Homo sapiens: one gene and its partners. The protein of the gene in region 7 purifies or fractionates together with the protein of the main gene of each other region. This does not show direct contact. Each region holds a gene or a part of one and is shown on either strand. Other genes may lie near its edges. The genes, in order: TBC1D4, ITM2C, RBM25, DDX19B, SRR, PLXDC2 and NRBP1.

What was found.
Region 1: the proteins of NRBP1 (region 7) and TBC1D4 purify together in Homo sapiens (co-immunoprecipitation; 2 studies listed by BioGRID and IntAct, with this or other methods). This does not show direct contact.
Region 2: the proteins of NRBP1 (region 7) and ITM2C purify together in Homo sapiens (affinity purification with western blotting; one study listed by BioGRID). This does not show direct contact.
Region 3: the proteins of NRBP1 (region 7) and RBM25 purify together in Homo sapiens (affinity purification with mass spectrometry; one large-scale study listed by BioGRID and IntAct). This does not show direct contact.
Region 4: the proteins of NRBP1 (region 7) and DDX19B purify together in Homo sapiens (affinity purification with mass spectrometry; one large-scale study listed by BioGRID and IntAct). This does not show direct contact.
Region 5: the proteins of NRBP1 (region 7) and SRR purify together in Homo sapiens (co-immunoprecipitation; one large-scale study listed by IntAct). This does not show direct contact.
Region 6: the proteins of NRBP1 (region 7) and PLXDC2 purify together in Homo sapiens (co-immunoprecipitation; 2 studies listed by BioGRID and IntAct, with this or other methods). This does not show direct contact.

The regions. Positions count from the first base shown.
Region 1 is NC_000013.11:75,479,370-75,483,553, forward strand, and holds the start of TBC1D4 (TBC1 domain family member 4), read right to left. Parts: upstream 2,801-4,184; 5' UTR 2,399-2,800; coding exon 1,901-2,398; intron 1-1,900.
Region 2 is NC_000002.12:230,871,080-230,875,103, reverse strand, and holds part of ITM2C (integral membrane protein 2C), read right to left. Parts: intron 1,688-4,024; coding exon 1,547-1,687; intron 1-1,546. UniProt on the Homo sapiens protein: Negative regulator of amyloid-beta peptide production. May inhibit the processing of APP by blocking its access to alpha- and beta-secretase.
Region 3 is NC_000014.9:73,064,740-73,068,763, forward strand, and holds part of RBM25 (RNA-binding protein 25), read left to right. Parts: intron 1-232; exon of another isoform or gene 233-354; intron 355-4,024. UniProt on the Homo sapiens protein: RNA-binding protein that acts as a regulator of alternative pre-mRNA splicing. Involved in apoptotic cell death through the regulation of the apoptotic factor BCL2L1 isoform expression.
Region 4 is NC_000016.10:70,301,850-70,305,873, forward strand, and holds part of DDX19B (ATP-dependent RNA helicase DDX19B), read left to right. Parts: intron 1-4,024. UniProt on the Homo sapiens protein: ATP-dependent RNA helicase involved in mRNA export from the nucleus.
Region 5 is NC_000017.11:2,313,688-2,317,711, forward strand, and holds part of SRR (serine racemase), read left to right. Parts: intron 1-1,869; 5' UTR 1,870-1,873; coding exon 1,874-2,041; intron 2,042-4,024. UniProt on the Homo sapiens protein: Catalyzes the synthesis of D-serine from L-serine. D-serine is a key coagonist with glutamate at NMDA receptors. Has dehydratase activity towards both L-serine and D-serine.
Region 6 is NC_000010.11:19,819,056-19,823,079, forward strand, and holds part of PLXDC2 (plexin domain-containing protein 2 isoform 1 precursor), read left to right. Parts: intron 1-4,024. UniProt on the Homo sapiens protein: May play a role in tumor angiogenesis.
Region 7 is NC_000002.12:27,431,396-27,435,419, forward strand, and holds part of NRBP1 (nuclear receptor-binding protein), read left to right. Parts: intron 1-1,853; exon of another isoform or gene 1,854-1,858; 5' UTR 1,859-1,878; coding exon 1,879-2,088; intron 2,089-2,277; coding exon 2,278-2,400; intron 2,401-2,593; coding exon 2,594-2,695; intron 2,696-3,075; coding exon 3,076-3,165; intron 3,166-3,326; coding exon 3,327-3,367; intron 3,368-3,737; coding exon 3,738-3,832; intron 3,833-4,024. UniProt on the Homo sapiens protein: Required for embryonic development. Plays a role in intestinal epithelial cell fate and proliferation, thereby involved in the architectural development of the intestine potentially via the regulation of Wnt-responsive genes.

The DNA of each region.
Region 1 (4,184 bases), on a different chromosome or scaffold from region 7:
CCACTGCTCCCACTGGACTAAAAGGGGGAAGTGAGCCTAAACATATTAATATTTATATAGTTCAGCCTCTAACGCTTAAATATATAATGGAGGAAAATAAAGGAATGTTTATAATTGACTTCCTACCAATGAGACCAAGAGGAACTCAACAGCAGCTGTTGAGAACTAAAGGTGCCAGGACCATCAATGAGATTAGCAACAATGTGTCATGCATCAGATGTCGCTGGGGGGAAATAACTTTAACAGAAACCCCCGAGAGTCATGAAAAGTTCCTTAAAGTCCTGGAAAAATGCAACTGGCTCCTCTTTACCACCAGAACCAGAAAAATGTAATACAATAAAATGTAATAGCTTTCAGAAACTTTCCAATTTTAACATATGTGAAAGCTAAAAATAAGTTTTGAACAAATGTTCACAAAATGAAATTCATTAAATCGTGGTTAGGATCTTGAAATAATTTTAGTACGATATTTTGCCATAAACATAACAGTTATGCCATAAACATAACTTCACATTAGGAGTTCTGATTGTTGGGTGCCTGTAATGCCAGCTACTGGGGAGGCTGAGGCACGAGAATCACTTGAACCCGGAAGGTGGAGGTTGCAGTGAGCCGAGATCGCACCACTGCGCTCCAGCCTGGGCGACAGAGCAAGACTCCGTCTCAAAAAAAAAAAACCTATTTTTCAAAGTAACTGATGAAATCTAAGACAATGAACTATTATTTTCTTCAATTCAACTACAAGCCTTTTGTGAAAACTGTTGAACTAAGTCTTTCAATTACAGACAGAAGAATTGTGAAATAAAAAAAATTAAAGCCATATTTATAGGATGTTTTTCTCATCTGACTACGATTAATTTCCCAGTTACCAAAAGAAAGCCACATGGTGCAACCTGAGACTTTATTTATATTTAGACAACACTATTTTTCCAAAGAACCTAAAGTACTGTGCAAACAGTAAATAACCATTTTTAAAACAGCATTTTGGAAGCTTTTGATATGGCGGGGAGAAAACTCATTACAAATTAAAGGGGGAAAACTCTGTTTTCAAAGACACAATCACTGCATAGTCAAGTTCTCCTCTCCCTGTTCCATAAGGACCATATCTGTTTTTAAGGAAGTAAAGTTTACTGTTTGGTAATTAGATTTAGAAGACTCTGGAAAAAAAATATTAAAAACAAAAGTGAAAAAAACATTTAAAAAATGATATTAGAAACCTGTTCTACTACACTGCCTCCAATAAGTGTGTTTAAAAACCGCAAAAAAAGGGCTTCTTTCCATTCAATATCCAAATGTAGAATCCTTCTTTGCAGACAATCTGACGATGTCTAGTAACTTTTCCCTAAGCCCCGCTCGGAAATTGCCTCCCAGACCGGAGACCTGCAGGTGCTGCTGCGAAGATGACGCGACCAGCCAAACCGGTTAAGGATTTGACTGCGATTGAGAACTAGTGAGGACCTCTAGGAACCCAACCTTCTGCGTTCATACACGCGCTCGCGCGCACACGCACGCACACACACACACACACACACACACACACGGCAAGCAAGCCATCTCCGGTCACACCCCAGACACCGCCGTCCTCCCGGGACGGGCGCTCCTCCACGCGTGCTCCTTGGACGCGCCAGCTCCCCCTCCATCCCGGGACCGTTGTCCTTTTCCCTCCGGGTCCCTGCTGTAGCCGGCCGGCCGCTCCCGCCGCTCGCCCAGCCCCCGAACGCCTTCTCTCCCACTCCCAAGGTCCAGGGAAGGGGCCAGCCGGCGCTTGAGCGCGCCACGTGGAGCGCGCGCGCCTGCAGCCAAACCTCAGTCGGTCCTTAAAGTGGGGTCCCCGCCCCTCCCGCCCTGCTCCCCGATCCCCCAAGGCCGAGCCCGCCCCCGCGCCTCCGAGCCCCTGTCTTGCCTGGCTGGGGTCTGTGGCGCGGAAAACGTGGCAGGCCATCTGCGACTCGGGGTCGTCGGGCTGCGCCTTGATCAGGTAGGCAAAGTAGGTGAGGTCGTGGCTGTTGTGGATGAAGCGCGAGATATGCTGCGCCTTGTGCTCGAAGATGAATACCGCCGGGTTGGGCTGCGTGGCCGACGGACTAGTGCCCCCCGAGGCCCCAGCGCCCGGCGCGGGGACGCAACGCAGGAAGGGCGCGCTGAGCACCAGGATCACCTCTCGGGCCGCCGGCGCCCCGCAGCCGCCCGCCTCGGGCTTCTGGCTGCGCCTGCGGATCTCGGCCATGAGCCAGGGCAGCATAGGCAGCGTGGTCCTGTGGTCCAGGCACGACCCCCCAACGTACCACAGCCGGAACCGCTTATCGCTTGGCTTCCCGGGGCCGGGCTGAGCTGAGACGCCCGGCTCGGGCTCCAGGGGGTGCGGGAACGGCTCATCCTGAATGCAGCTGGGCGGCTCCATAACTCTCGCCTCACCAGGGCACCGCGGAGGCCGGCCGGGCGCACCGCGCCCCCCACTCCCGCGCAGAAGGCGCCGCCGAAACTGTGCCAACTGCCGCACCGGGCTCCCGCGCCTGCCTGGGAGCGGCGCGACCCCGAACTCCGCGCTTCAGCAGCCCTGCCCCATGCAGCACTTCCACGGGCGCGGCTCGGAGGCTCCGGCGGCGGGCACCGAGGCAAGCGCCCGGCAGGCGAGGGCGGGTTAAATGGGCATCCTCCTCCTTGGGCTGGCGCCTCGGGCAGGACCTCCCCTTCCTCCGTCGCGGGTTTGCAGGGTCAGAGGACCACGCCGAGGGTCCCCGCGGCCGCCGGCTCCAGCGCTGCAGCCCCGCTGCGGCCGCCGCGCTCGCCTGGGGCAGACACTGGGTGGCTGGGCGGGGAATGGGGCTGTGGGCGGGAGGGGGTGACTTGGGGCGGAGCTGACTCCTACCAGGGTGACCGGCTGTCACCTGGAAGGTCGGGGCTGCAGGGCTGCGGCGCGGTCAGTCCTCAGGAAAGGCTCCGGCAACTACTCCAGTGGAAAATAACAAAAACAAAACGTGGCCTCGCGGGGGCCGCTCCTCCTCCCGCCGCAGCTGCAGCCCAGCTCGCTGCTCCTCCTCCTGCCGTTCCCGTCCCTCCCTCGCTCCTTCCTTCCTTCCTTCCAGGCTGCTTCTTTAATCGGGCTGCTACTCCGCCTCCCGTCCGGCGGGCGGAGAGCGTCGCCTGCAAAAGCTTATCCGTGAAGCCGCCTCTCCGCCTCTTCGCCTCTTCCTTCGACCCCCGCCCTTGGGGCTGCAGCTCAGAGCCTGGCGCGGGCACTGCCCGGACCCACTTGGCCTCTCTTGAGTCGCCGCGATCTCCGTCTCCTCCCGGGCGTCTCTGCTGCCCCCTAGAGAGGGGGCCACTCGCAGTGGAGAACTGGGATTTTTTTTTAACAGTATTTGCTTGGTTTCAGTTCCTTCTAAAGCCTACACATTAATTTCTGAATTATCTTTCCTAATAATCTCAAAAAACGCTCGTGTTTTCAATCACAATATTATAAATTCCAGTTCCAAATTTCACTTTAAAACATAATATCGACAGCTTGAATCTTCCTAGTTATTAAAGCAGCCAACTTCTTAAAATATGGAAAAGTTATGTTTTATTTATGTTATATCCCCAGTTGAGAGCTAATGTAGAGATTTCTTGTTCTTTTATATATATGTGGTAATACATATTTCCAAAGAACTAAAAAAAAGTTTGGAATAATTTGATCATTGTAATTTTAAGACAGGTAGACAAGTATTCTCCCTTTTTACTCATACCGAATGATAATTAAGAATTGGGTAAGAAGTAAAGACAAAATAAATAAGAAAGACACAGAAGTTCCTGACTTTCTCCTAAGTGCTTACAAGAAGAATGAAAACTCGGGTTTCTTGGTTTTTAGTTTAATGAGTTCTCACTTTTTATAAAGCCCTGGGACCACTTTTTCCCTTCTATTTATTTAAGATCAATATAACCAACTGCCATTGTTCTTATGCTGAATTTCTGGTTGCACTCTGATGGCTCTCTTATTAATAGGTATCTAAGTTCCAAGATGGAGACATTACTAATTGATTAGGTTAAGTCATTTGGTTGAACCACTTAAAAAACCTTTGTTCAAAAAGACCCATGTCTTCAAAGAAGCAATGAAAAGTTCTTGGAAGGTAGACTGAGACCTTCTAGAACCTTCCCAGAAACTCTGTTACACAGATCCCATTTCCTTAGGCTACATATCTGAGACATAA
Region 2 (4,024 bases), about 200 Mb from region 7:
CCTTTCCTGTCACCTGCTGTCCTGGCCTGCAGACCTGGAGGGGCCTAACACGGCGGGTGGGGAGGTGGAGCTGGAGGCAACACTGTTAAGAGTCTTGTGCCCCTATCACGGTTACCTCCACATCCAGCCTCGGACAAGTGCCATCGCCCTTCCTGGATATCCCTGACCCCTGTCTTGGAGAAACCTTGACAGACACTGTGTCTGGTGGGCCAGTCCAGTCACTCCATCAGTAAGGGAGGCCAGGCAGCCTGGTGTGATCCCATCAACTGAATGGCCGGGCGGGCCAGTCTGCCCACTCTTACTTCTGGAGGGGGCTCCTGGAGGGGCCTGTAGATACATGCTTGGGACTGCCTGGCCTGGGATCGGCAGGATTCCACCGTCTGTTTGATTCAGTGCAAGTTCTCCAGGGAGGATGCGTCATCGCAGCATGGGGGGCTCCTGTGGGCTGTGCGGGGATGAGAGCCCAGGGAAGGTGAGGCTCCGGGGCTGCATCCCACAGTGGCTGGACACCCCGAATACTGTCCCAGGGCACAGACCCAGGGGCTGCTGGGAGGTGTCCACACAACGAATTGGGGTGTGGGGAGAAGGGTGTGAGTCGAGGGTGGAACAGAGGGGACCAGGAAATGCTGGCCCAGGTCCTAGGGTAGGGCCACAACAGGAAGAGGCCTGTGGGAAGGTCCCACACAGGACCCTGGAACGAGGGGGACGCAGGCCATGGAGGGAGTGGGGCGGGGCAGGGGGATGCTGCACAGAAAGGAAGGTGATGGGTGTATGTGAGCTGAGCTTTCAAGGGGAAAGCCCCGTGAATGCAAACTCTTCAGCAATTTCCATCGTGGAAAAACTGGGGGACAACAAAGTTAAACGCTTAGGAGTGGGAGGTCACTTGGGTCATAAATGACTGGCAAGTCCCACCTCTTTGTCACCCTGAGGTTCTCTGTGAGTTGTACGTAGGTTTATCCTTTTAATTTACCTACTTTCATTTCCAAGCACACAGCGACACTCCCTCCCTCCCAGGTCTGGGTTGGCCCAGCTTTGTGCCCAGGTCCCCCGGGGAGGGGGATGATAGTTGGCAGCAAGGACACACTCCTGCTTCTGGAAGGAGGTGGTGGAGACTCTCTGTACCCACCCCTCTCCCTCTCTTGTTTGGTAACCCAAATGTCCATGCACAAGCACAGTTAGGTCAGCCTTAAAGCGTGACCTGCAGGTGCAGGGTCTGAGCTGTGGAGGGGGATCACAGTTCCAGTTTCTGCCAGATCTGAGTTTCTGGTGAGAATTCCCCAGGGTGACCCTGTGGGGCGGGCCCAGTGCTGTCACCCGGATTCATGCTTGGCTCCCCAGGACAAGGGGCTAAATGTGGGACTGGCCTGCATCCAAGGAGGCCCCAAGGAGGAGGGGGCACCCCAGTCTTGTGGGCTGGCCGGGCACTCGCTCCCACCTGAGGGCATGTCTGGGGCTTCCTGCTGCCCCCTTGCAGACACTTCCCTCCATGCCTCTCTAGACATGACCCTTTCTCGAGGCCTTGCCCCTACCTGGCCCGGCCCCTCACCTGCGCAAGGAAGAAGTATCTGTAGATGTAGACAGAGGCGAACACGAGGCCCATGAGCAGCACGACCATGCCCATCGACAGGTAGCACACGCCGCCCACTGAGCCCCCCCTCTTGGATCGATGTTGTGGGGGCTGCTCCTCCTGTGGATAGCAATGCTGGGTCAGTGGGGGCCAGGGCCCCTCCCCTGGAAATCCCCCCTTCCCTAAGTCAGGCTTCACCTGCTGGCTGGGCCCGGAGGGAGTCTTGGGGGAAAGGGAGGGAAGGAGATGACACCTAGAAGGGAAAGGAAGGCCCACCAGGGTCACCCGGACTCGTCCTGGCTAAAGAGAAACCGAGACAAACCTCGAAAGAGAAAAGGAGACACACCTCGAAAGAGAAACCAAGACACACCTGGAAGCCACCGAAAGAGATGCAGTGGGTTCAGCAGGTGCATTTTGAGTTATCTGAGCTCTTAGGCCTCTTGCTTATACCAGCCGTGACCGTGGTATATTCTTTCAAACAGAAGATAGGGGATGTGCCGACCTGGCCTCGGTGACTTTAGGGACTTAGAAATCTCTGTAGGAATTGAGACACACCAGGCAGGCTGGGAGCTGCTGCTCTGGACGATGGGGAGCCCGGGAAGGCTTTTGAGCTGGGGAGTGACAAGATCCACTCTAAAACCAAGGTGCAGAGGGTAGACTAAAATGAGGACAATAGGAGGTGGGCAGGCTGTGTAAAGGCTGCTCAACTCCACCAAGGAGGCTGTGACTGATGGGGGCAGGGGCTCCAGGAGCCCCATGGGGTCTGGGCATGGGTGCTTGTCCCCAGCCAGGGAGCTCTAGGCCTGTGATCCACACTGGCCCCCCACAGGCACCGACCGGCAGTCAAGCAGGCTGTTACAAGTGGTGTAACAGCTACAGGATGAAGCCCGGAAGCTTCCATCCACCAGGGAGCTCCTGCCAGGAGAGAAATGTGGCTGTCCGGAAGGCCAGGCTAGAAGGATCCTGGAAAAATCTGCTCTGGGAGCCAGAATTGGGCTCAAGATCATAGCTGCAGGGCTGCCAAGAAGCCAACCTAACCCATCTCCAGGCCACACATGTGTGGGGTGGTGGACGTAGGTGTGTGAGTATAAAATTCAACAAAACTGCTTTACCCAGAGCACTGACGAGAGCCAGCCAGGTGAGCTTGGTCAATTTCCTGTCTCTTCTCCTCCCTACCTCCTATGCCTTCCCCCGGGCCCTTGCTCACCCTTGGAGATAATGCAAAAGCCCCGGGGCCAGTCTCTGCCTCCAATGTTCACCATTTAATCCTTCCTCCGTGGTGTCCACATACGGCCAAGAGTGAGGTTAGAGGTCAGTCCCTGCGGACTGCCGCAGTATTGGGGAGAGGAGGGGATCCAGCCCCAGAGCCTGAAGCTTCTCATTCTGGCTCTGCCACTACCTGCCTGCTTAGCACTTTCTGGGCCTCGGCTTCCCCATCTGCAAAATGAGCAGGTCAGACCAAGTGACCTCTCAGGCCCTTTCCGGCCAGGCGTTCTGGGATGGGAACAGATTTCCTTTCTCCCTTCCCCCTGGAGGGGGGTGGTTCAGGCCTAAGTGACTCAGGACAGGCCCTATCTCTCAGCACAGCACAGGGGTCCTGCCCTGGGGGCGCCTGCTTCGCTCCTCAGGTTTCACCTCCCACCCTTTTAGAGCACAGGGGAGTGTGGGGCCTGGGCCCTGGGGAGCTGAGGGTCTGACCCGCCCTGCTTAGGAAAAGGACAGAAAATGTCTGGAGGACCCCCCCTTCACTGCGGACATGCGTGAGCAGGTCAGCAGGCCCCCAGCATCCTCACCATGGGGTGCCCCTGCCTGTCCTGCACCCTCACACTCAAGTCTGCCCGCAAGGGAGCCTGCTGGGTGGGTGTGGGAGGTCAAACCACTGCCCGCACTGCCTGGCCCATGAGGAGGCCGGGGCCTCTCCCCACCTTGCCCTGCTTTAGGGGTCCCGTGATCATATGGACCACCTGCCCACTGTCATCTCCTCAGCAGCCAGGGGCACTAACCAAGGTCACCAGCAAGTGACGGGCATGGCCACAGTGCACAGGGCCCTCAGGAACAGCTGCTGGCCACAGGGGGTTGGGACTAAATGGCTTTGGTTTTCCAATGGACTCCCGGGAGCAGCAAGAGACGGGGGTGACACCTTCCGTTGGCATCTCCCAGGGATCGAACCACCCAGGAGCTCTTGCAAACCAGGCACCAGGGATGCCCTCCTGCCCCTCTGGCGCTCCTGAGCAGGTCTTAAGGAAAGGTGGCTGACCCTGACACAGGCCAGGCTGCCTACAGCAGCTGGGAAATCTGCCCTCGGGACACAACAAACACCAGGGCTCAGATTGTATTTAGGGGTCAAGTGGGGCTACAGGCCCAGCGGGGCCCTGCAACCTCCCCCTTCTCGGGTCTCCCATGCAAAATGTGGACAGACTCTGCGTGACAGGGGTTTTGCTGGGATTAAACGAGACA
Region 3 (4,024 bases), on a different chromosome or scaffold from region 7:
GGTATTTTTGCCTTCACCTTTGAAGTCCAGCCTATCAACAAGCAAGTTTTGGCAGCTCCAAATAAAGGGGAATATGTTATGGAAAAATTTGAAGTGAATGGAATGGGTATATTGGCATAAACGAAAATTAAATATATCTGGTTAACTCTGCAGAATGAATTACACATTTAAAAACCATAAAATATAACTTAAATACCAAGAATATAGAGTTTTACTTTTTTTTTTTTTTTAGACGGAGTCTTACTCTGTCGTTCAGGTTGGAGTGCAGTGGCGCGACCTCGGCTCACTGCAACATCTGCCTCCCAGGTTCAAGCAATTCTCCTGCCTCACCTTCCAGAGTAGCTGGGATTACAGGTGCGCACCACCACACCTGGCTAATTTTGTTTGTTTGTTTGTTTGTTTTCTTTTGAGACAGAGTCTCACTGTGTCACCCAGGCTAGAGTGCAGTGGCGCGATCTCGGCTCACTGCAACCTCGGCCTCCCGAGTTCAAGTGATCTCCTGCCTTTGCCTCTTGAGTAGCTGGGATTACAGGCACCCGCCACCACACCCAGCTAGTTTTTGTATTTTAGTAGAGACGGGGTTTCACCATGTTGGCCGGGCTGGTCTCCAACTCCTGACCTCAAGTGATCGGTCTGCCTCGGCCTCCCAAAGTGCTGGGATTACAGGGGTGAGCCACTGTGCCCAGCTAATTTTTTTTTTTTTTGAAACTGAGTCTTGCTCTGTCGCCAAGGTGGAGTGCAGTGGCGCAGTCTTGGCTCACTGCAACCCCTGCCACCCAGGTTCAAGCAATTCCCCTGCCTCAGCCTCCTGAGTAGCTGGGACTACAGGCGCACACTACCATGCCTGGATAACTTTTTGTATTAGATACGGGGTTTCGCCGTGTTGGCCAGGATGGTCTTGATCTCCTGACCTTGTGATCTGCCTGCCTTGGCCTCCCAAAGTGCTGGGATTACAGGCATGAGCCACCTCACCCAGCCCAGTGTTTATATTTTTAGTGGAGACAGGGGTTTCACCATTTTGGCCAGGCTGGTCTCGAACTCCTGACCTCCAGTGATCTGCCCGCCTTGGCCTCCCAAAGTGCTGGGATTACAGGTGTGAGCCACCGCCCCTGACCGAGAGTTTTAGTTTTTAAGCATTATTTATATCTAATATTATTGGGGGAAAAGTGGTTTTAAAAATGAGTTCATGGCCCAGTCTTGTAACCATTGTGAGGCTAGGCACTGGGCCATTGCTAGAATATAGTATGCGGCATGAGATAGCATAATAAATTTGTTTATTGAAGTCCTCAGAGTTTGTTTACTGATTTATTCATTAATCAGTTTATTCAACAGGTATGAAAACCAACTATCCTAAGAAAGCACTGAGATAGGCTATTATAATGATAATAGAAGAGCTTCTGTAAGTAGGACAGTAGCCCTTTCTGTTTTAAAAAGAGATACCACCCCCAGTTTTTGGTTTTGGTCAAAAAGTTTTACAGAAAGTTTATTTTAAAACTCAACACATTTACAGTCTTGCAATCTTGTGTTTTTCATTGTTAATATGTACTGATAACCTACCTACTGTTTAAAACATTTCTAATACCTCATTTGCCAAGTATATTAAATCCTCCTAAGGGCTGGGCGCAGTGGCTTATACCTGTAATCCCAGCACTTTGGGAGGCCGAGGCCGACGGATCACTTGAGGCCAGGAGTTTGAGACCAGCCTGGCCATACATGGTGAAACCCCGTCTCTACTAAAAATACAAAAATTAGCTGAGCTTGGTCGTGCGTGCCTTGTGGTGTGCACCTGTAATCCTAGCTACTTGGGAGGCTGAGGCAGGAGAATCGCTTGAACCCGACAGGCGGAGGTTTCAGTGAGCTGAGATGGTGCCTCTGCACTCCTGGGTGACAGAGCAAGACTCCATCTCAAAAAAAAAAAAAAAAAAATGCATCCTAGGGATTCCTTTACCTATAAAGTTTTCTAAATATTTTAAGTATACTGTGTTTTCTGAAATTGAAGTTTAGTTTTATTGAATATGGTATTATCCCAATTTAAGTCAAAGGAATTCTGAGGAAGTAGAGCTGTGAGCATGTAGGTCATGCTTTTCTGTTTTAAAGAAATGTCTAGTAAACAGGTAAACGCATACTCAACCTCATTAGTCATGAGGGAAATGTAAATTGAAATAAGAGTATATTTTACTTATGAAATTGTGAGAATTTTGACACTGATCTATTCTACCAATGATGAGGATATGAGGAAAGGGCATACCCATATTCTGGTGGTGGGAATATACATTTATATGCTAGTTTTCAGGGATGATTTTGGAGGTAAAGTTTGGATACATATAATTTTTTTTTTTTTTTTTTTTGATGTGGATTCTTGCTCTGTCGCCCAGGCTGACGTGCAATGGCACCGTCTCGGCTCACTGCAACCTCCGCCTCCCAGGTTCAAGCGATTCTCCTGCCTCAGCCTCCTGAGTAGCTGGGACTACAGGCACCTGCCATCACACCCAGCTAATCAGATACATATAGTTCTAACCTGTATTAGAGAATTACCTGTACAGATGCATACAGTTATATGTCTATTATCTCCAGGAATGTTCAACATTATTTGTGAGAGCTGAAAGTGGAGCCAACTGTTAATGTTGGTTAAATAAATATGTCCGTATTATAATAATTTACTGCATTATTATTATTTTATTATTTTTGAGGCAGTCTTGCTCTGTCACCAGGCTGGAGTGCAGTGGCTTGATCTCGGGTCACTGCAGCCTCCACCTCCCGGGTTCAAGCAATTCTCCTGCCTTAGCCTCCCAAGAGCTGGGACTACAGGCATGTGCCACCACGCCTGGATAATTTTTGTATTTTTTTCATGTTTTATTGCCTGTATTTTTTTTTTTTTTTTTGAAACAGAGTCTCGCTCTGTTGCCCAGGCTGGAGTGCAGTGGCGCGATCTTGGCTCACTGCAAGCTCCGCCTCCCAGGTTCACGCCATTCTCCTGCCTCAGCCTCCCTAGTAGCTGGGACTACAGGCGCCTGCCACCGCACCCAGCTAATTTTTTTTTTTTTTGTATTTTTAGTAGAGACGGGGTTTCACCGTGGTCTCGATGTCCTGACCTCGTGATCCACCCGCTTCGGCCTCCCAAAGTGCTGGGATTACAGGTGTGAGCCACCGCGCCCGGCCTGTATTTTGTTTTTATATGTATCATTAATTCTTAAAAATTAAGATTTTGAATCTCTTTGGATATTTATTAGGCTTCAAAGATCTTGATGGAGCAGTCTGAGTTGACTGCCAGTTTCTTAAGTTGGCGGTAAGGCTGGGGTGCAGCGCACACTGGTTTAGCGTGAGCAGTGATCACTAAGCACATGAGCTACGACCACCCCAACTTTACCTCGTTCACAGACAGAACTGGAAGGTTGGTCCTAGATGGCTGCTTGGTCCTGGATGCTTTAGTGGTCTCTTGATATGTGGAAAGCCTTGTTTTGGAACAAATGTTTCCATTGATACAGATGAGAAATGCCTCTTTAATATTTTTATAAACCATTTAGACCCCAATAGATTTGGTTTGTGGGTCACTCTCTTGTGAGTACCAAAGGATTTCATGGTTGGAAGGTGTGCCTTTTCGTCTTGGCAGTGAGCAGCATTTAATGGAGAGACAATGCTTGTATTTGATTTTTTTTTTTTTTTTTTGGTTCATTTACAGGATCTGAGACTTATTCAGACTACCAGCTGTATTATCAGGAAGGAACAAATCCAAGTTTTGACGTATTGTCAGTGTGCCGCATGTTGTATTTTCAAATTCCTTTAGTGGTTTTAACATTAGATGACCAATTCTTTGGCACTGATGTGCTTTTGCCAGTGTACGGTAGATCTGACCATGGCTCTGAGAAGTCTGGCTGGCATTACCACATCCCAAGCTCTCTGTCCAAAGAGAAGGAAGCGCCAGGGACGCACGCTTCCTTGGCTGGACTGCAGGAAAAGAGCTGCAGCACCAGCCTCTCATTACTGCAGCCACCCCCTCTCCTAATTTTTGTATTTTTAGTAGAGA
Region 4 (4,024 bases), on a different chromosome or scaffold from region 7:
TGCGCACCACTGCATAGCTTTTCCCAGAACTCTTATTAGATGAATGTTGGATCTGTTGGACTGGCCCTTTAATTTTTTTTTTTTTTTTGAAATGAAGTTTCGCTCTTGTCCGCCAGGCTGGAGTGCAATGGCACGATCTTGGCTCACTGCAACCTCTGCTTCTTGAGTTCAAGCGATTCTCCTGCCTCAGCCTCCCGAGTAGCTGGGATTACAGGCATGTGCCACCATGCCTGGCTACTTTTTGTATTTTTAGTAGAGGTGGGGTTTCACCATGTTGGCCAGGCTGGTCTTGAACTCCTGACCTCAAGTGATCCGCATGCCTCAGCCTCCCAAAGTCCTAGAATTACAGGCGTGAGCCACCACACCTGGCCAGCCCTTTAATTTTTTTAAAAGTCAGGTTTATGGAGGTATAATTTACACAGAGTAAAATTAAACTTTGTTAGTGTACAGTTCTATGAATTTTGACAAAAGCATACAGTTGTGTAACTACCACCACAGGCAACACATAAACCCTCTCTACAAAGAACTACAACTTCTTGTAGTTCACTCCCTCTCCTCACCCTTCTCTGGCAGCTGCTGATATGTTTTCTGTCATTATAGTTTTGCCTTTTCCAACATGTCATAAAATGGAATCATATATATAATATATAACCTTTTGAAAAGTCTGGCTTCTTCCACTTAGTATTATGCATTTAGAATTCAACCAAGTTGCATGTATCAGTAGTTCATTCCTTTTTATTGCTGAGTAGAATTCCACTGTGGATATATATACACAGTTTGCTTATTCTTCTATTGATGGACACTTGAGTAATTTTCAGTCTGAGACAATATGAAGAAAGCTACTCTATACATTAAGGTACAGATTTTTGTATGGACATATGTTTGCATTTCTCTTGGGTAAAGTCAATATCAAAGAGTAGGATTTACTGTGTTATGTCGTATGTGTTTAACTTTGTAAGTTATGTGCCAAACTATTTTCCAAAGTGTATCATTCTGCTTTTCCAACAGCAATGGATGAGAGCTTCAACTGCCCCACACCCTTCCCTGCACAGTATTGTCAGTTTCCTTCATTCTAATAGGTACATGCTGGTGTCTCATTGTGGTTTTAACTTATATATCTCCCTAATGACTAATGATGTTGACAATCTTTTCATGTGCTTATTTGCCATGTATGTAACTTCTTTGAAGTGGCTTTTCAAACCTTTTGCCCATTTTTAAAGTAGGATTGTTTTTGTTTTTAGTTGGGAAGTTTCTTTATATATTCTGGATAGAAGTTCTGTTTTTTGTTTTTGTTTTTGTTTTTTTTGAGACAGGGTCTCACTCTGTCACCCAGACTAGAGTCAGGCTAGAGTGCAGTGGCATGATCTTGGCTCACTGAAACCTCCACCTCCTGGGCTCAAGGGATTCTCCCACCCTGTCTCCAGAGTAGCTGGGACCACAGGCATGCGCCACCACATCTGGCTAATGTATGTATTTTTTGTAGAGACAGGGTTTTGCCATGTTGCCCAGGCTGGTCTTGGAACACCTGGGTTCAAGCAATCCGCCCACCTGGGCCTCCCAGAGTGCTGAGATGGATTACAGGCATGATAAGTCCTTTATCGGATATGTTTTGCATATATTCTCTCAAACTACAACTTGTCTTTTTTCAACAGTACTTTTCAAATAATAGACATTTTCAACTTTGATTAACCTAATTTATCAATTTTTGTTTGTTTGTTTGTTTTTGAGACGGAGGCTTGCTCTGTCGCCTGGGCTGGAGTGCAGTGGTGCCATCTCGGCTCACTGCAAGCTCCACCTCTCAGGCTCACGCCATTCTCCTGCCTCAGCCTCCCGAGTAGCTGGGACTACAGGCGCCCACCACCACGCCAGGCTAATTTTTTTTTGTATTTTTAGTAGAGATGGGGTTTCACCATGTTAGCCAGGATGGTCTCGACCTCCCGATCTTGGGATCCGCCCACCTCGGCCTCCCAAAGTGCTGGGATTACAGGCGTGAGCCACCGCGCCCGGCCTAATTTATCAATTTTTAGATGATTAGTTCTTTTTGTGTTCCAAGATATACACCTTATCCAAGGCCACAAAGATTTTCTCCTGTGTTCTCTAGAAGTCTTATAGTTTTAAATTTTACATTTATGTCTGTAATCCATTTTCCATTTTGAGTTAAATTTTTTCTAATAAGGGGTATGCATTGAGGTTCATCTTTTTTTTTTTGAGGCGGAGTCTGGCTCTGTCTCCCAGGCTGGAGTGCAGTGGCGCAATCTCAGCTCACTGCAACCCCTCGCCTCCGGGGTTCAAGCAATTCTCCTGCCTCAGCTTCCCTAGTAGCTGGGATTACAGGCACCCACCACTATGCCCAGCTAATTTTTGTATTTTTAGTAGAGACAGGGTTTCACCATATTGGCCAGGCTGGTCTCAAACTGCTGACCTCATGATCTGCCCGCCTCGGCCTCCCAAAGTGCTTGATTACAGGCGTGAGCCACCGTGCCTGGCCGAGGTTCATCTGTTCATCTTTTTCACAGAGATGTCTTTTTTTTTTTTTTTTTGAGACAAAGTCTTGCTCTTGTCCCCCAGGTTGGAGTGCAGTGGCGTGATCTCAGCTCACTGCAACCTCCACCTCCCAGGTTCAAGCGATTCTCCTGCCTTAGTCCCCCGAGTAGCTGGGATTACAGGCGCCTGCCACCAAGCCTGGCTACTTTTGGTATTTTTAGTAGAGACAGGGTTTCACCATGTTGGCCAGGCTGGTCTCAAACCCCTGACCTCAGGTGATCCATCCGCCTTGGCCTCCCAAAGTGCTGGGATTACAGGCGTGAACCACCACTCCTGGCCAGAGCTGTCTTAATTGTTCCAGCACCATTCGTTTAAAAGTCCTTTGGTTTTCTTTTTTCTTCTGTTTTTCATCTTTGTCTCTTTTTTTTTTCTTTCTTTCTTTCTATATTTCCTGGGAGATTTTCTCAAGTACTGTCTGGTATATTTCATTTTCACTTCTACTTTCTTATTTTTAATTTCAGGAACTTTTTTCTTCTTCCTTTACTGTTCCTTTTTTACAGACAATACCCTGTACGGCTTTCATGGTCATAATATCCTCATCATTTGGAGGATATTTTTCTTCTTCTCTCTGCTCAGTCTCTGTTTCATGTGAGGCGTGTTTTATCCATATATTTCAGTGTCTACTTTTTTGTGATGACTGTTTCTCAGATGTCTGTAATCCTTGCTTGGCCACTCATATTTAAGAGTGAGTGACTAAAAAGTTGAGTGGAAGCTGTAAACACATGAGTGGGGCTTGTCTATTCTGACCTTAACTATATATCTTTAGTGGTCTATGTCAGCATCCTGAGAACTTTCCTCCCGGTCTGGCCAGATTTTGCAGAGAGGGATCCTCTAAACTCCTGCCTAGATGGTGGAGGTCTGACTCAGTGTTCTGGAATCTAGGTGGAGGAAAGGGTGAGGGAGGTCTCAGGACCCAGAATACCTGCTTCCACTTAATGCTTCTGTTTTCATTATGGCATCCCCTCCCTTAACTGTGGTCCTTATCCATTTGAGCATTTCTCATGCCTAACCTGGCAGGCATTGTTAACTGAGTAAATGAACTGTGTAGTTTGTTATTTGTTGCAAAGAAACTTTTGATCATTCACTCTCAATATGTAAATATCTATTTAGAAATTGCATACTTTACTGTTTTATTAAATATATTATGTACATTGTAAAGCAAATAAAAAAGTAATAAAGGCTGAGATAAAAATGAAATAATGCTTTCCTGTGCTTGTGTGTGCTGGCTTCATATTTTTATTAGCCAATATCTCAAGGCACAATATACACTTAGAAAAAAAACACATCATTAGTCAACGTAGAGATAAATATGTGTTTCAAGTAGTTCTGAGAGGTTTTTTGTTTTTTTAATTATTATTTTTTAAATTTTTATGTATTTATTTTTTGAGACAGAGTCTCACTCTGTCGCCCAGGCTGGAGTGCAGTGGCGCAATCTCGGCTCACTGCAAGCTCCACCTCCTGGGTTCACGCCATTCTCCTG
Region 5 (4,024 bases), on a different chromosome or scaffold from region 7:
GTCATGCCACTGCACTTCAGTCTGGGTGACAGTGAAACTCCATCTCAAAAAAACAACAAAAAAAAAATGTTGATAAATGTACTCACCTATGAGATTCATTGATATTCATAATACTGTCTGACAAAAAAAGAAGTTACCAAACCTACCAAAGAGTTTTGTCTGCATATGTAGTTGGGCCTGGAAAGGTAAACCACTGGATAGCAACTGTCTTTAGGTAGGAAGGTTTCGTGGCTATTTTCATGTTCTTTTTGTATCTCTGTATTTTCAGATTAACTCAGTTTTCTAATGAATATAGATTCTTTTGTAATAAGGAAAAATAGAGAAACTTCATATTTAACTGCTACAATAGACACAGTGGAAAGTGGAAGCTTAATGTAGTTATTGAAAATTATGAAAATTGTAAAGAAACTGAGTCAAATGTAGGAGCAAATAAAATGTTTGCTTTAACTGTTACATAATGTATATTGAGAATGCAGAAGGAGCCGGGCGCAGTGACTCACGCCTATAATCCCAGCACTTTGGGAGTCTGAGGCAGGCGGATCACCTGAGGTCGGGAGTTCGAGACCAGCCTGCACAACATGGAGAAACCCCGTCTCTATTAAAAATACAAAATTGGCCGGGTTTGGTGGCTCACGCCTGTAATCCCAGCACTTTGGGAGGCCGAGGCAGGCGGATCACGAGGTCAGGAGATTGAGACTATCCTGGCTAACACGGTGAAACCCCGTCTTTACTAAAAATACAAAAAATTAGCCAGGCATGGTGGCAGGTGCCTGTAGTCCCAGCTACCAGGGAGGCTGAGGCAGGAGAATGGCGTGAACCCGGGAGGCGGAGCTTGCAGTGAGCCGAGATCGCGCCACTGCACTCCAGCCTGGGTGACAGAGCGAGACTCTGTCTCAAAAAAAAAAAAAAAAAAAAATTAGCTGGGCATGGTGGTGCATGCCTGTAATCTCAGCTACTCGGGAGGCTGAAGCAGGAGAATCGCTTGAACCTGGGATGTGGAGGTTGTGGTGAGCCAGGACTGCACCAGTGCACTCCAGCCGGGACAACAGGAGTGAAACACCATCTCAAAAAACAAAAAAAAAGAAAATGCAGAGGGAAATAAAGAAAATGAACATAGTTATTTAAATGGAATAGTCTAGCTATTTTTTCTTTATCAAATAATTTGTTAAATTTTTATTAAAAATTAAAAATTTAAATTTATAAATTAAAAATAATATAAAAATTGAATCCAATTCATTCAAGTAGCTTCACAACGATGATTAAAAGAAAGGTGGAGCTGGGCACGGTGGCTTACACCTGTAATCCCAGCACTTTGGGAGGCCGAGGCAGGCGGATCACGAGGTCAGAAGTTCAAGACCAGCCTGGACAACATGGTGAAACCCCGTGTCTACTAAAAATATAAAAATTAGCTGGGCACGATGGCACATTCCTGTAATCCCAGCTACTCGGGAGGCTGAGGCAGGAGAATTGCTTGACCCGGGAGGCGGAGGTTGCAGTGAGCCGAGATTGTGCCACTGCACTCCAGCCTGGGCTACAGAGCGAGACTCCGTCTCAAAAAAAAAAAAAAAAAAAGGAAGATGGAGACCAGTGGCAGTGCCAACAGTGCCAAGAGATGGGTGGTGTGGGTGGGGAGTGGGCTTTAGCCTTCTGTAATCACCATCAGTTACTTCCCTCAAAGCTTCACCAGAAAAACTTCGTTCAGCTTTTAAGTCAACTCTCTTTTAGGGAAATTCTGACACTCCAATAATGGAGAATTTCCACATGACACCACAGGCCCCAGGTCTATTCTGTTACGTATTTTCAAAATCTCTTCAATAAACATACTGTCTCAGACTTTGCTTTGACCCCTTTCTTATTCCTGGGTTTCAGAACCATGTGTGCTCAGTATTGCATCTCCTTTGCTGATGTTGAAAAAGCTCATATCAACATTCGAGATTCTATCCACCTCACACCAGTGCTAACAAGCTCCATTTTGAATCAACTAACAGGGCGCAATCTTTTCTTCAAATGTGAACTCTTCCAGAAAACAGGATCTTTTAAGGTAACAATCCTTTTTCTCAGTGTATCATGTATGTTTTCACACCCTTTCACATATCAGTTTGATTCTCCTGACCACCCAATGAGATAGGCAGAAGTAAATTAATGCCTTTATACAGCTGGAAAAAAGGTTACAGAAATTTTCCTTTCAAGTCCTTGTTTTACCTAGCATCATAGTGTTGATAAGCAACTTTTACACAGTCATAAATCCTTATAATTAGGATAATATATATAACTTATCCGAGTAATTTTTATATATATGTATGTGCATATATATAATATATACATAAAATACAGTCATATGCCACATAACGTTTCAGTCAATGACAGACCACCTATATGATGGTGGTCCTTGGTCCCATAAGGTTATACCACACATTTACTGTACGATTTCTGTGTTTAGATACAGAAATACTTCTCATTGTGTTATAGCTGCCTACAGTATTCAGTACAGTAACATGCTATACAGGGTTTGCAGCCTAGGAGTAATAGGCTGTAACAGCTGGATTTGTATAAGTACACTCTATGGTGCATGCAAGATGATGAAATTGCCAAATCATGCATTTCTCGAAACATATCCCCATCCTTAAGCAAAGCATGACTTTATTATATATACCATCACTTACTGTCCAAACTAAGACATAATTTATTATCCAAACTAGGACATGTTTGGGACTGAAAGAAGCAACCTGAAATATCTAAACAGACACCTGAACTGTTGCAGGCAAATTGGAAAGTGTTATCACTCTGTATATGACCCAAGTTTAAGCATTCACTGTATCAACTTGCTACACATGGATACATTATCAATATAAAAGATCTAAGCCTGGGCCACACGGCAAAACTCTGTCTACAAAAAATACAAATATATGACAGGCGCAGTGGTTCACACTTGTAATCCCAGCACTTTGGGAGGCTGAGGCAGGTGGATCACCTGAGGTCAGGAGTTCGACACCAGCCTGACCAACATGATGAAACGCTTTTTTGTTTTGTTTTGTTTTGTTTTGAGACGGAGTCTCACTCTGTCCCCCAGGCTGGAGTGCAGTGGCACGATCTCGGCTCACTGTAAGCTCCACCTCCCAGGTTCACGCCATTCTCCTGCCTCAGCCACCCGATTACCTGGGACTACAGGCGCCTGCCACCACGCCCAGCTAATTTTTTTTTTTTTTTTTTTGAATTTTTAGTAGAGACAGGGTTTCACCGTGTTAGCCAGGATGTTCTTGATCTGACCTTGTGATCCGCCCGCCTCTGCCTCCCAAAGTGCTGGGATTACTGGCATGAGTCACCGCACCCAGCCTTGGTGAAACACTTTCTACTAAAAATACAAAATGAGCGGGACTTGGTGCCAGGCACCTGTAATCCCAGCTGCTTGGGAGGCTGAGGCAGGAGAATTGCTTGAACCCAGAAGGCAGAGGTTGCAGTGAGTTGAGATCACGCCATTGCACTCCACCATGGGTGATAGAGGAAGACTCCATCTCGGGGGAAAAAAAAAAAAAAAAAAAAAAGGCCGGGTGCGGTGGCTCACGCCTGTAATCCCAGCACTTTGGGAGGCTGAGGCAGGCGGATAACGAGGTCAAAAGATCGAGACCATCCTGGCTAACACGGGGAAACCCCGTCGCTACTAAAAATACAAAAAAATTAGCCGGGCGTGGTGGCGGGCGCCTGCAGACCCGGCTACTCGAGAAGCTGAGGCAGGAGAATGGCGTGAACCCGGGAGGCGGAGCTTGCAGTGAGCCGAGATCGCGCCACTGCACTGCAGCCCGGGCTACAACAGAGCGAGACTAGGTCTAAAAAAATAAAAAAAAAAAATTTAGCCGGGCATGGTGGCAGGTGCCTATAATCCCAGCTACTTGGGAGGCTGAGGCAGGAAAATCACTTGAACCCGGCCCTGGGGGTAGACGCAGTGTGGGGAGGCGGACGTTGCAGTAAGCCGAGATCGTGGCACTGCACTCCAGCCGGGATAACGGAGACTCCATCTCAAAAAAAT
Region 6 (4,024 bases), on a different chromosome or scaffold from region 7:
ACACACACAATACACACACATTTGCTATGCCAAGAAGTTCAGAAATTGAGGATGAAATTCATCCCAAAGTAAGATTGGCCATATAATTAAAAGCCCTTGCTGTGGGAAATATAAAATACTTAAAATGTTCAACATCAGTGTACTGGTATTTTAAGCTAGTTGAATATTTCTGATGGGAAATATACTCTAGAAACCCATATATTGATAGGATTGATTTTTAAAAGAATGGTTTTAAATTCCTTGCCAAATTTTCGAAGACTTTTATAAACAGAAGTAGCTTCTTTCCTGGACATCATTTACATGTAGTTTTATGAAAAAAATATTGTAATTAAATGGTTAGCTTACTGAATATATAAAAAAAGCAAGGTGAAACAGAAAAAAGTATACAACTTTATTTGTAAAATAGTCTATATAAAAATTCAGTATGGGGGGAAAAGTCCAGCAGTCTTGACGTTTGTCATGCAACAATCAGGATCTTTATTACAGACATGTTGGCACAGGAACAACATCTGATTTCATAACAGGGACATTTTATTATGCGTTACTTTAGTAAATGCTGCAGTTGATTTCATTGCCACCAGAGGGCAGATAAACTGCTAATTTCCTCTATTATTCCCTTTTCTGTTTTAGAGGGAAGTAGTTTATGTTTATCATATAATTTACACTTATTTTAGTTGTTCTTCTCTGGTTGAATATTTTTCTGTTATTTCCTGCTTTTGTTGGAGTTAAACAATTTACTTTGAAATATTACTCATTTGTAGAGTTTGTTATGAGAGTGTTGCTGTTGAGACATAATCACTAAAGTTTCTGTTTACATATAAACCTAGAGCACAGTGATATAATAGAGGGGTTAATTCAAGTGAACATTTATTGTAAAATGGACATCTGTCATATTGTTGGACAAAAGACAGGTTGATTATTTTATCAATCAATGACTTGAGGCTACCTGCAAAATTTTAAAAATATGAAATATGAGTTTCTTTTTCCTTTAGAGAACAGATACAAGTTTTGGAGCTTGAGGTTGGGTAAGTTTGGACTGAGACATAATTGTAGTGTAGAACATTTATATCAAAGGTAATTTTTGTTGTTGTTGTTCATGGATGTCTGCCTAGAGGTTTGGAATTATTATAATCAGGAGAATTTGCACATTTCAGTGTGATCTTCAGAAATAAACTCTTGTCAGGGAGAATGTATTTGAATAAAACTTAATAATGAAAGATAATAATTTTGCTCCAGACAGGTTTCTTCACTGTAAGCATCAGATACTCACAGAGTATGTAGAAAATATGTGTCCGGCCGGGCGCGGTGGCTCACGCCTGTAATCCCAGCACTTTGGGAGGCCGAGGCGGGTGGATCATGAGGTCAGGAGATCGAGACCATCCTGGCTAACAAGGTGAGACCCCGTCTCTACTAAAAATACAAAAAAAAATTAGCCGGGCGCGGTGGCGGGCGCCTGTAGTCCCAGCTACTCGGGAGGCTGAGGCAGGAGAATGGCGGGAACCCGGGAAGCGGAGCTTGCAGTGAGCCGAGATTGCGCCACTGCAGTCCGCAGTCCGGCCTGGGCGACAGAGCGAGACTCCGTCTCAAAAAAAAAAAAAAAGAAAAGAAAATATGTGTCCTTATCAATTAGTTTTGTCATTTTTTCCTAAAAGCTATCTCCTATTGCAGAAACATTATGTTTTTAAAGAGGAATGAGTTGATCAACAGCCTTGATCATGGGATCTAAAGTCTTCAGCTGCAGGCTGGGCACGGCAGCTCATGCCTGTAATCCCAGCACTTTGGGAGGCCGAGGTGGGCGGATCACCTGAGGTGAGGAGTTCCAGACCAGCCTGGCCAGCATGGTGAAACCCCGCCTCTACTAAAAATACAAAAATTAGCCGTGTGTGGTGGTAGACCCCTATAATCCTGGCTATACTTGGGAGGATGAGGCAGGAGAATCACTTGAACCCAGGAGGCGGAGATAGCAGCGAGCCGAGATTGCACCATTGCACTCCAGCCTGGATGGGCGACAAAGGGAGACCCTGCCTCAAAATAAAAATAAAAATAAGTAAACAAACAAATAAATAAATGAAGTCTTCAGCTACTTTCTCCTCACATTAATACAGTCTCTTCTCCATGGTCTTCAAGGCCATTGCCTGTGGCCTCAAGCACTTTCCCACCCTCTCTCCCCTGCCTGTTCTTGAAAGCTCTCACCAGATGAGCTGCTGAAGTTCCCTGAGTGTGTACCATGCATTACCACTTCTGCCATTCCTCCTGCTCTTCCTTCTCTAAGTGCGTCTCCATCCATCCATTTTCCAATTTTTCCTGCAGATTTATCTCAAGTGACACTCTCCACAAAAGGACGTGTTGTCTTAGAATTCTCAGTGCACTTTATGCCTTCTTCAAAGGCACTTGCTTGATATTGTAGGGTTTCCTTTTCTTTCCATTTCTACCTCTCTCTCATGTATTCTATTAGACTAGACCATACATTCCTGAGGTCAGGGTCTGTTGTCATTTATTTCTGAATCTGCTGTGGCAACAACCAATAAATAGTTGCAATAAATGGTTGTTGGACTGAACTGAACTGACTAGAACTATAGTTCAAGCTGAATTATTAATTTGAATGCCACGTTGGGAGACTTTTTAAATAATTCCCATGCTAAGACTTTGTCCATCCCTAGGATAGAAATAAATTTAAAACGAACTTTGGAGAGTAACTGTTGAAACCAAAGCATAAGATCCAGAAGTCTGCTAAACTATCCTTCTACTATTAGGTGGGACTTTCAAAAAATTCATTCGACCATTCTTCTATCCTGCTGGTTTCTGAGTGAATGTTCACTCATGTTCTTAATCTCATATCTTTTTTCTTTTATACATTCCTTTAAAAAAAATTCTTTGTTTTCATTTTTAATAATATGTATTTAAGCTGTGCAACATGATGCTTGTTTATTTTCTTATTCTATGTATAAGAGAAAGCAAATTGCATTTGTATTTCCGTGTCTGAATTATTTTACTTAGCACAATGTCCCCCAGATTCATCCATGCTATCACAAATAGCAAGATCTTCTTTTTTAAAGCTAAATAATATTCCATTGTGCATATATATGCACTATATATGCAATATATAATGTATATACACTATATATGCACTATATAGTATATATGCACTATATATAATATATATGCACTACATATGCAATATATAATATAAATGCCCTATATATGCAATATATATAATATATGCACTATATATGCAATATATATAATATATATGCACTATATATGGAATGTATATGCACTACATATGCAATGTATGTGGAATATATATCCAGTTATTCATCAATGGACACTCAGGTTGTTGTCATATCTTGGCTATTGTGAATAATGCTTCAATTAACATGGGAGTGAAGATACCTCTTAAAGGCTCTGGTTTTATTTTCTTCAGGTATATATACAGAAGAGAGGTTGCTAGCTCATATGGTGGTTTTATTTTTGATTTTTTGAAGCAACTTCATATTGTTCTTTTTATGGCTCTACCAATTTACATTCCCACCAACAGTGTATAAGGGTTGCCTTTTCTCCACATCCTCACCCACACTTACTATCTATTGTCTTTTTGACAATAGCCATCTTAATATTAGTAGGTGTGAGATGATACCTTATTGTGATTTTGATTTGTATTTCCCTAATGATTAGTGATGTTGAGGACCATGTCATATGCCTGTTGGCCATTTTTTTTGTCTTCTTTGGAGAAATGTCTTTTTTAGGCACTTTGCCTATTTTAATATCAGTTATTTACATTAAGCCTTCTGTTGATAGATAGGACTTTCAAAAAGTTTATTCCACTATTTTCCTATACTGCTAGTTTCTTTCTGGATGTTTACTTACTTTTTTTTTTTGAGACAGAGTCTCGCTGTTTCTCCCAGTCTGGAGTGCAGTGGCGCGATCTCAGCTCACTGCAAGCACCGCCTCCCAGGTTCACGCCATTCTCCTGCCTCAGCTTCCCAAGTAGCTGGGACTACAGGCACCCGCCACCACGCCCAGC
Region 7 (4,024 bases):
GCTTAAAGTCTTAGCTCTGGCTTGAATTTGTGGCTGCTTGAATGTGGGCATTTATTTTGTTTGTTATTGTATCTCAAGGACTTAGCCCAGTGCTTGGCCCACAATAAATGCTTAATAAAACATCTGTTAAATGAGTGAATGAAAAAAAAAATGTTGTTAACCAATACCCATTTGTCACACTCACATCACAGGAAAGGTGAGGTCATCAGGGATGAAGTCACTAACAACTGCCAGTCATGTGCCCCAAGGGTAGCCTCACCATGGACTAGTGGGCTTGTTCTGTGTAGAGAAGGGATGGATAGTGAATGCCAAGGTTAGTTCTAGCTGGATAAATTAGCCAAGGGTTTCAGCTGGATAAGTTGGCTGAGGGTGCTACAGGTCTAGCCTTAAGGCTGTCTCACTGAAACATTTTGGAGTCTGGAGTCATCTGTTCTGAATAGCGCCCACATAGTTTATATTTTTTTATTTTTTGAGACAGAGTCTCACTCTGTTGCCCAAGCTGGAGTGCAGTGGCACGATCTCAGCTCACTGCAACCTCTGCCTCCCGGGTTCAAGTGATTCTCCTGCCTCAGCCTCCTGAGTAGCTGGGACTACAGGTGCGTGCCACCACACCCAGCTAATTTTTTTATTTTTAGTAGAGACAGGGTTTTGCCATGTTGGTCAGGCTGGTCTCGAACTCCTGACCTCAGGTAATCCACCTACCTCGGCCTCCCAAAGTGTTGGGATTAAAGGCGTGAGCCACTGTGCCCGTCCACACATAGCTTAATTCTTGAGCACAGTAAAAATAGGGTGTACTTGGGGATTCAAAGGGAAGCCTATTGGATGAGTATTTGCCAAGAAGGAATGGAGCACCTGATTTTGCTGGTGATTTGAACCTTACTCTAAGTGGGATTAGACTGCCATAAATCTTGTGTTTGTCATTCCTGGGAGGGTCATCTTCAACTAAGATAGCTCCCCTTTTCTAGACTAGAGTTAGGAGAATAGTTAATGTTTCAGTATTTAGGACTGATTCTGATTTTGGATTTAAAGGAAACAAAGGTGGTGTGTGTTTTCTATTTTTAATTTTTAAAAGTTTTGTGTAGAGACTGGGGTCTTTTTATGTTGTCCAGGCTGGTCTCAAATGCCTGGCCTGTTTTATTTTCTTTTGAATTTGCAGATAAGTATTAGGATTATTAAATCTTTTTTTTTGTTTGTTTGTTTTTTGTTGAGACAGGGTCTCCCTCTGTTGCCTAGCCAATGGCATGATCATAGCTCACTGCAGCCTCAAACTCCTGGGCAATCAAGTGATTCTCCCATCAGCCTCTCGGGTAGCTGGGACTATAGCTGTGTACCACCTTGCCCTGCTAATTTTTAAATTTTTTTGTAAAGATGGGGTCTCACTTTGTTGCCCAGGCTGGTCTCAAACACCTGGCCTCAAATGAACCTCTTGCCTCGGCTTCTCAAAGTGCTGGGATTACAGAGGTGAGCCACTGTGCTCAGCTGGATTACTAAATTTTTTTTTGAGATGGGGTCTTGCTCTGTCACCCAGGCTGGAGTGCAGTGGCGTGATCTCAGCTCACTGCAACCTCCACCTCCCTGGTTCAAAAAAATTCTCCTGCCTTAGTCTCCTGAGTAGCTAGGACTACAGGCACGCGTCACCACACCCAGCTAATTTTGTATTTTTAGTAGAGATGGGGTTTCACCATGTTGATCAGGCTGGTCTTGAACTCCTGACCTCAGGTGATCTGCCCACCTCAGCCTCCCAAAGTGCTGGGATTACAGGCATGAGCCACCACGTCCAGCCTGGATTACTAAATCTTTACAGATGTATCCTGACTTTCTCTGCCTTTTCCCTCTGTATTTGCCCCAACCAGTGCAGGCCTGAGTGTTCCTTCCAGCATGTCGGAGGGGGAGTCCCAGACAGTACTTAGCAGTGGCTCAGACCCAAAGGTAGAATCCTCATCTTCAGCTCCTGGCCTGACATCAGTGTCACCTCCTGTGACCTCCACAACCTCAGCTGCTTCCCCAGAGGAAGAAGAAGAAAGTGAAGATGAGTCTGAGATTTTGGAAGAGTCGCCCTGTGGGCGCTGGCAGAAGAGGCGAGAAGAGGTAAGGTTATGGTACAGTTACTCTTGGGTGAGTGAATTCTGGAAAGGTGAGAACTGGAAGAGCAAAGTCTTAAAAGAGGCCAACCAAACTTCAATAGGTTGGGGGCTAGGAGGAGATGATCATATGGAGTGTTAAAATGGAGGATTTGTGAGATAAGTTTAATTCTCTTTCATATGAATTTCTTCTCAGGTGAATCAACGGAATGTACCAGGTATTGACAGTGCATACCTGGCCATGGATACAGAGGAAGGTGTAGAGGTTGTGTGGAATGAGGTACAGTTCTCTGAACGCAAGAACTACAAGCTGCAGGAGGTAGGTGATGCTGAAAAGGTGAAGCCTGGGGAATGTTGGAACACTGATGTTAGAGAGGAATTGGTGTTGGGAAGCTGCCCGTGAGGAGAGTATGTTGGGGTTAGATCGTTTCTGGGGAGGGATAGGGAATGGCTTCTCAGGATTATTACAGTGATTTGTGACTCTGTTATTCCACTGTCTCCCTTGCTTTCAGGAAAAGGTTCGTGCTGTGTTTGATAATCTGATTCAATTGGAGCATCTTAACATTGTTAAGTTTCACAAATATTGGGCTGACATTAAAGAGAACAAGGCCAGGGTAAGAATTTTTTCCCCATATTTCCTGAACTTATTGCAAAGAGACTAGCTACATTTATTATTGTTCCTTTTACACTCAGAGATTAAAACAAGGTAGTTTTGAAACAGAACTGGAATCAGCTGCAATGGCGATAAGAGTAGGGCTTCAGTTGTCACCTATGCCTTTTGTGTGGCTATAGATTGGGCAGAAAATGAGTGAACTTTTGCTTCTTTCTTCCCATAACTTTCATTGCTTGTTTTCATTGCCCTATTTAGTCTAAGTAAGTAAAGCTAAGAACAAAAGGAGAGAAATTTTAACAAACCTTCAAATTTAAAATATGTTAACAAGGGAAGGGATCATTTCTACTATAAGGCCTTTTAGTAAGTGCTTTGCCTCCCCAGGTCATTTTTATCACAGAATACATGTCATCTGGGAGTCTGAAGCAATTTCTGAAGAAGACCAAAAAGAACCACAAGACGATGAATGAAAAGGTATAGAAGGAGAGCAGACAAAGTTTGAGGCTGGTTTTTGGGGGTGGTTTTAAAAAGGACTCTGTTAATAATGAAGCTGATCAGGAAGGGACGGAAGGAGCTAGTGGGAGAGAGTTAAGAGAGGGAATTACTGCTGACCCTTGGATCCAACTTTGTTCCAGGCATGGAAGCGTTGGTGCACACAAATCCTCTCTGCCCTAAGGTAAGTAGTACCTGGTTAGTTTCTTACCCATATTTCCTGATGTAGTTACTCCAAACAGATTTCAGGGCACTACTCTTCTGTTCTATTCTGCCTCTCCCCACTTTCTTTGAATCATATACTGTCAAGATTAGGGCCCCTACGGGTCTTTTAAAGGGTGCGTCCTAATGCCCTAACCACGACACTTATCTCCTACCTCTTTCTCCTAGTGCTTATCCAGCTATTTAAATCATCAGGCATAATGGAGATTCAGAGTGTGGGGATTATCTTTATGGTGACCAGCAGGAGACCTGGCCCTTGCTCCTCTTAACCCTTGGGTTCCCCCTGCCCTTAATTTCCCAGTGGCCCCTCTAACAGCCCAGTGCCCCCACAGCTACCTGCACTCCTGTGACCCCCCCATCATCCATGGGAACCTGACCTGTGACACCATCTTCATCCAGCACAACGGACTCATCAAGATTGGCTCTGGTGAGGGGAGGGAGAGGTTCTGGGCAGGGGAGCCTCGGGAATTTGGGAACCATGGGGGTAAGATGAAAGGAATGGGGGATAACAGAGCAAAATTCTGAGGTGTGGGCTGGTGAGAAGAGAAAGGACCTTGCTAGGAGTAATTAATAGGAGAGGCCAGTTAATTAGTGGAGAGGGGGTAGGATATATAATCTT